2 linked regions of the Homo sapiens genome follow. The protein of the gene in region 1 interacts with the protein of each later gene in a pairwise test. Each region holds a gene or a part of one and is shown on either strand. Other genes may lie near its edges.

Region 1 (2,841 bases):
GGCAGATCACTCGAGGCCAGAAGTTTGAGACCAGCCTGGCCAACATGGCGAAACCCCATCTCTACCAAAATTACAAAAATTAGCTGGGTATGGTGGCGAGCACCTGCAATCCCAGCTACCTGGGAGGCTGAGGCAGGAGAATCCCTTGAACCTGGGAGGCAGAGGTTGCAGTGAGCTGAGATCGCACCTCTGCACTCCAATCTGGGCAACAGAGCGAGCATCTGCCTCAAAAAACAAATAAAACAAAAACAAAAACAGATAATACTGATGTTATTTCCAGAAAATCCCCTGGTACTCTCATGCCAGGCAATACAGTTATAACATCACAAGCTAACACAATAAAGTGTAAATGTCACTGAGCCGATTCCAGGAAGCTGCTCAGGAACGGACCCCATTTAATTAAAAAGAAATGTCAAATATAAAAACAATTCAGAGAACATATGAAAGTTGGGCATGGCCTGTGTTTCTCTCTGAACATCCAACAGAATGGAAGTTGACTTAACACAGTAAAGATGTTCCTGTGTCTGAGAAGTTGCTGAAATCAGTTCCCCAATGAAATGCAGGGCCTACCCATGATCTGAGGGCTGGAGGGTTTGCAGGCGTGTTTTAAGGAGATCCAGAGGTTGGAAAAGGAGGGTAGAGCAGGTCCCACTGATGGAGCCACACAGGAAAGCCTTGATCACCGGATGTAACTGCAGGATAAGACAATATTGTGTCAGTAGCTCTGCCTGTGTGAGCCTCACCTTTCTCTATACCTGACCAGCAAATTCCTTTATAATGGTCTCTTAGACACTTACCTGGTGGTGCCTCATGTTTTCTTCATACCTCGGAGAAGGAAAAAGTATAGCCAGAAATTAAAAATACTGCAATGTTATTGAGGACATTGGATGCTGCAAGAGGTATCTCTGGTCTTCGTATTGCTGATAGACATATTGCTCAGTGGGAGCAAAACTATTTCCATGCCACTGACCACTCTTCCCTATTTGTTCTGACTCAAAAAGTTACTGGTCATCTCCCTATCTTTGCAAAAGCAAAGTCAATTGAATGCAGTGCTTTCACTTTGAACTGATGATGTGCAGACTCCCTTCGCTCTAAGACCTATAGGTATTTATAGGACCAAGCCAAAGCAAATGAAACCTTAAGCTCAACCACTGTGTAAAATGTAAGTGCCACTTCCTGTAGAACCTAGTATTTCCTTCATTTAAAACTTTCCCCTTACCATCTCACTGGGCCCTAAGCAGATCACACAGTCCTACAGACCAGTAGCCTCCCCTGGCTTTGCTGCTTCTCCTTCAACCCATGAACCGTCATATACACTGGCTAATCTACAGACACCACCTGGAAGGGTGGAACTCCTTCAAAGACTAAATATACCTCCCTTAGTTCCAGGAGCTGCAGCTTCCAGCACTGGTGCTATCATTACAGGACAGCATCCTTTCTCCAGACCCCTAGAACCCAGTAGTATCACAAATGACTGTGAAAAGGTACTTAAAATCCAACCAGTGACCTTCTTCCCCTTCCCTAAAATAAATAAATAAATAAATAAACAAATAGCTATCTTCTCCAAAAATGTTTGGCAAATTCATCCCCAAAGACCTCTTCCCTTATTAAGTGGCATTTGCACTATTATTTTTTAAATAAATGACACATTGTGGCCCTAAAACATTAAGATGAATATATATAAAGTTTCCATTACACATCACATAACTACTTACCTGGAACTGAAATATTTGTAATCTGCAGTATTTGCTTAACAGAGAAGAGAGTGTATCTCAAATTCCACCAAAGAAGCCAGTTATAACTGGAATTCCTCATAAGACTGTTGGAGGCAGGGGGTGGGGGGAACTAAGGTCATTAAAAACTGGAGTTTACAACCACGATGCAATAACTTCTGAAGTACCAAAGGGTGGTCTGATAAGACAACAGGTAAAACCAAGTAAGGTGTGCGTATTTTAGCAAGTCTGTATCTACATCAACTCCCTCTCCCCAAGAGGTGTCCTGCTCTTCTGCCAACCAATATTCTCATGAGTTCTGTGTTTCTAGTCTCTCCCCAAGACTTTGTGGCATTAATGAGCCCCCCTTCTTCACACACTGGGTCTCTCGCTCCCACTGGCATCTCCTCTTCTGCCAGGCAACAGGCTCCAAAGCATCCATCTTTCCAGCCTGACGCTACACCATCTCCACTTGCTCTGTGCCAGTCCCTCCGCAGGCCCCCCCAGTTTGCTATCCAGCTAAATCTCCTCCACTAACACAGCCTCTGAGGGCTCACCAAGCACCTGCTGCACCCCAGGACCCCGTTCCTGTCCCTGCCCTTATCTTACTTGGCCTCTCTGGTACATGCCATATAGCTGAGTGCCTCTCCTCACAGTTTCTGGTTTCTCTCTCCTTCTCTTCTTTGGCCTGCCCTTCACATAGGACTGCTCCTCTTATCTCCTTTCAGAGTAACCTCACCCATATCCAGGCTTCACACACATGCTGGTAATGCCCACATCTCCAGCCCAGGCTGGCCTCTCCCCAGACTCTGCTAATGTCTCCTTGTCTTCCCTCAAATGGCCCACAGGCATCTCAAATTCAACATGTCCAAAATGGAAACTTGGTCAACAGTTCTCCACACACTTGCCTCTTCTCCAATCCACACTGGGATACTCCAGGAATCCAGGTTGGAAACCTCAGAGACACATAAAACTCACCATGCCTGCTGCTACATGACCAAGTCCCACTGACCAAGCCCTCAATCTTCCCAGTCTGGCCTCCACTGATCCATCCTAATGACCTCTGCAGCAGTCTCCAGCCTCAACTATGCCAACCCACCCTCCACTCTGCTCCCAGAGTAGCACTGGG
Region 2 (3,927 bases), on another chromosome or scaffold:
TACAAGGCCAGTTTCATTTATCTTTTCCTCCATGGCCTTTTCAGTTTTATGTCTTTAGGGGTTTGTGTTATTCTTAAAAAGGCCCTTCCCACTCCAACTTTCCAACCTGTCTCCCTGCTTCTGCCCTTGCCCAACCCCTTCACATTCAAGTCTACTGTTAACATAGCAGCCAAAATAATAATCTCAATACCCAAGTTTAATCATGTTACTTCTCTACTCAGAAATCTCAAATGAGCCATGCTGGGTAGCTCACACCTGTAGCTCCAGCTACTCAGGAGGCTGAGGCGAGAAGATCACTTGAGCCCAGGAGTTTCAGGCTGCAGTAAGCTATGATCGCACCACTCACTGCACTCCAGTCTGGGTGACAGAGTGAGACCCATCTCCTAAAACAAAGGAAAAGGAAAGAAAAGAGAAAAGAAAATAAACTGAGTAGCTTATCATTTTATCATTTTAGAGTAAAAATACCCTTGCACTCACCCAAGGCTCTCACTATCTCTCCACCCAACGCTCTTTTGCTCACTCAGCTCCAGAAAAACAAGCACCCTTCCTTTGCCCAAAATACTTAAAACACACTCCACTCCAGGCTTTTGCATTTGTTATCCCTCTCCCTGAAACATCTTTATCCCTGATGGCCCATTCCCTCAGCTCCCTCAATCTTTGCTCAAATGTCAATTTCCTAGTCAGGTCCTCCATGAATATCCTATTTAAATTGCATCACTTCATTCTCACCCCAAATTCCCTATTTCCTTTATTTTCTCCTTAGAACTGATATCCACTCTCTATACACTATGTATATTTTTTGGTTTATTGCCTGCCTCCCCAGCACACACACACACACACACACACATACACACACACACAAGATTATAAATTCCATGAAAGGAAGGGCATTGTTTTGCTCAAAATTAGTTCCAGCTTCCACAATAGTGCCTGGCATAGTAGATAAATCAATATTTGTGTAAGAAAGGAGAAGAGGGAGTAAAAAACTAAGAGCATTTTTCACCCATCAATTTGGCAAAGATCAAAATATTTTATAACACTGTGTTGACAAGTATAGGTAAATAAGAATACTGCTAGTAGATCCTATGATTGGTGATTTGGCATTAACAAAAGTACAAATTTCCCTATTCTATGCTGTAGTAATTCCCTTTCTAGACATACAGACTATGGATATATCCTTACACATGAAAAATGATGTGAGTTCACAGTAAGTTATTGCAGCAATGTTTGAAAAAGAAGAATTGGAAACAACCTCATGACCACCAATGGGGTACTTATTAACAAATTATAGAACATAATACACAGTTGAATACCGTGCAGTTGTTTAAAAAAGAGCAAGATCAAGGAAACACTTATGTACAGCCTTTACCAAGACCACCTGGTAAAAAGAAAAATAAGAAAGGTACAGAAGTGCTACTATTTGTGCAGAGGGGAAAAAGCGCGGACAATCTATAACGGTGTAATATATCTACGGAAGGATATACAAGTCACGAAAAATATTGTCAAACTAGACGCTGGGGGACATTTACTCTTTTTAATAAATGTATGTGAATGCATTACTTATCCATATTACTCAATAATTAAACCGAAAAACGTTTTAAAGAAGTACAAATAAGACTTGCTCGCAGATCCCGCAATCCCATCAATACGAGGCGTAAAAGCCGGGTCCTCCACTGGCTAGGGCCGAGGAGGCAAGCACTCAAGCTGCCACAGAGGCGAAGCTTCCTAGAGCGGCCCGGAAGTGCCCGGCTGAAGCGGCCGGGCGCCGATTGGTGTCTTTGAGTCTAGTCTTTGTTCGGGGCTGTCCAAAGGACGCTAGCTGTTGCACCTGTTCCTCCCTGCGCGTAAGGTGAGTGTCTCCCGGCTCCCAGGTGGAGAAAAGGGGACAAGACGCAGCTGTGGTCAGCAGCAACACCCTCCCCACACCTCCCTGTCGCGGGCAGAGTGTAACACTCCTGTCCCTCCCTCCGCCCCCCAACAGATCTACAGGAGAGGATTTGGCCCAGCCTTCCGGGAGAGGATGGGTGGAAGGGGGACACTGGTTGCGGGTTCCTCTGCAGAGGCATCTGTCTGATCCCCTTCCAGGGTTGGCACACATATCCTATAACCAGTGAATCCTGGGGGCACAAGCTGGCCCGTGCATCTCATGGTAACAGAATGAAGAGCCTTTTAACAAAGCCGTTAATAATACTTGGCGTTTATTTAGTGCTTACTAGTGCCCGCTGCCATGCCAGGGACGTTGCATACGTTCTCATGTAATCTGTATATCAACCCTGTAACACACATGAGAATTGTACCTGAGGATCTGTAGTTCTAGTCCAGATAAATAACTTCCTCTAAGTTACACAATAGAGCACAGATTCAAATCATATCCCTGCGTCACTGTTTTTTGTTTTGTTTTGTTTTGTTTTGTTTCAGCTTCCTATAAGACTGTTTTCTCTGATTGACTTCTGGTGGCTTGGCTTCATTATGATGTGTTTATGTTCACAGAAATTTTTGTAATTTCTCTATGGTAACAACTTTTTATGCCTTAGGAGTGTCTCTGAGGCAGGATTCTAAGAGATTCTCTTTGACTCAATCCCAGATAGAGGATAAATCTCCTGGCAAAGCCCAGAATGACCACAGCCCTGGAACCTGAGGACCAAAAAGGACTTCTGATAATTAAGGCAGAGGACCATTACTGGGGACAGGATTCCAGCTCACAAAAGTGCAGTCCTCACAGGAGGGAACTCTATAGACAACACTTCAGGAAGCTCTGCTATCAGGATGCACCTGGACCCCGTGAAGCTCTTACCCAGCTGTGGGAGCTCTGCCGTCAGTGGCTGAGGCCAGAATGCCACACCAAGGAGCAGATTTTAGACCTGCTGGTGCTAGAACAGTTCCTGAGCATTCTTCCTAAAGACCTGCAAGCATGGGTGCGTGCACACCATCCAGAGACTGGAGAGGAGGCAGTGACGGTACTGGAGGATCTGGAGAGAGAGCTTGATGAACCTGGAAAGCAGGTGTGAAGGGGCAGTCATCTGGCTGTGAGTGATCAGGGGATATGGATGGAGCCAAAGCAAAAGGCATATGAAAGAACATCTGAAAATATTTATCCTCTAAAGAACAAGGCATAGGAAGGGACCTGACTACCTATGTCAAATAATTAAAGTGTGGCTGGGTAAAGAGAGGAGAGTCACTAGACTGATTCTATGCCTGTTTGGAAGGCTAGGATCAGTGGGAAGTTACCAAAAGGCAATCAGGTATCAGAGGAAAAGAAATAATTTTCTGCCATTCATAGATACCCATAAATAAAATAGGCTACCCCATAAGAAACTCCCTTTCCATATAGGTATTCAAGCGGAGATTCAAGTAGATGTCAAGGATATTGCAGAATAGGACTGTCCAACAGAAATATAATGCAAGCTGTATATGTATTTAAATTTTCTAGTAGCCACATTAAAAAAAAAGGTGAAATATATATTTTATTTAGCCCACAATATTTAATCATGTAATCAATATTTTTAATGAGGTATTTTAGATATCTGTGCTTTAAATTTTCAAAATTTGGTATGTATCTTACATTTAGCTTATCTCATTTGTACTAGCCATATTTTAAGTACTCAGTAACCACATTTTGCTAGTGACTACCATATCGGATAGCATGGTTATAGAAGAAATGCTCCCATTTGCTGGAAGTTGGGCTAGATGATTTTTAAGCTACCTTCCAAATCCCAGTGCTCTGATCCTGGACTTCTGCAGATCAATGAAAGAAGAGACGTTGAATTTTACTCTCTAGTGTCCTGAATTGTAGAGATTAGCCTCTGTTCCTTCTCCTAGCCATTATTGCCATTTACAATGAAATGAGAATTTGTCCCCCCTTTCTATGTCCCTGGAAGATGTTTCATTTGATTGTTTTATCTGAAGTTACTTAAGTTTCCATAAAAT

Evidence for each region.
Region 2: the proteins of SLC25A38 (region 1) and ZSCAN16 interact in a two-hybrid assay, tested with the Homo sapiens proteins (one large-scale study listed by BioGRID and IntAct).

What each region holds. Positions count from the first base shown.
Region 1 is NC_000003.12:39,387,346-39,390,186, reverse strand, and holds part of SLC25A38 (mitochondrial glycine transporter), read right to left. Parts: exon of another isoform or gene 2,345-2,841; coding exon of another isoform or gene 2,322-2,344; exon of another isoform or gene 826-2,321; coding exon of another isoform or gene 798-825; intron 693-797; coding exon 571-692; intron 1-570. UniProt on the Homo sapiens protein: Mitochondrial glycine transporter that imports glycine into the mitochondrial matrix.
Region 2 is NC_000006.12:28,122,829-28,126,755, forward strand, and holds the start of ZSCAN16 (zinc finger and SCAN domain-containing protein 16), read left to right. Parts: upstream 1-1,780; 5' UTR 1,781-1,849; intron 1,850-2,418; exon of another isoform or gene 2,419-2,584; 5' UTR 2,585-2,615; coding exon 2,616-3,002; intron 3,003-3,927. UniProt on the Homo sapiens protein: May be involved in transcriptional regulation.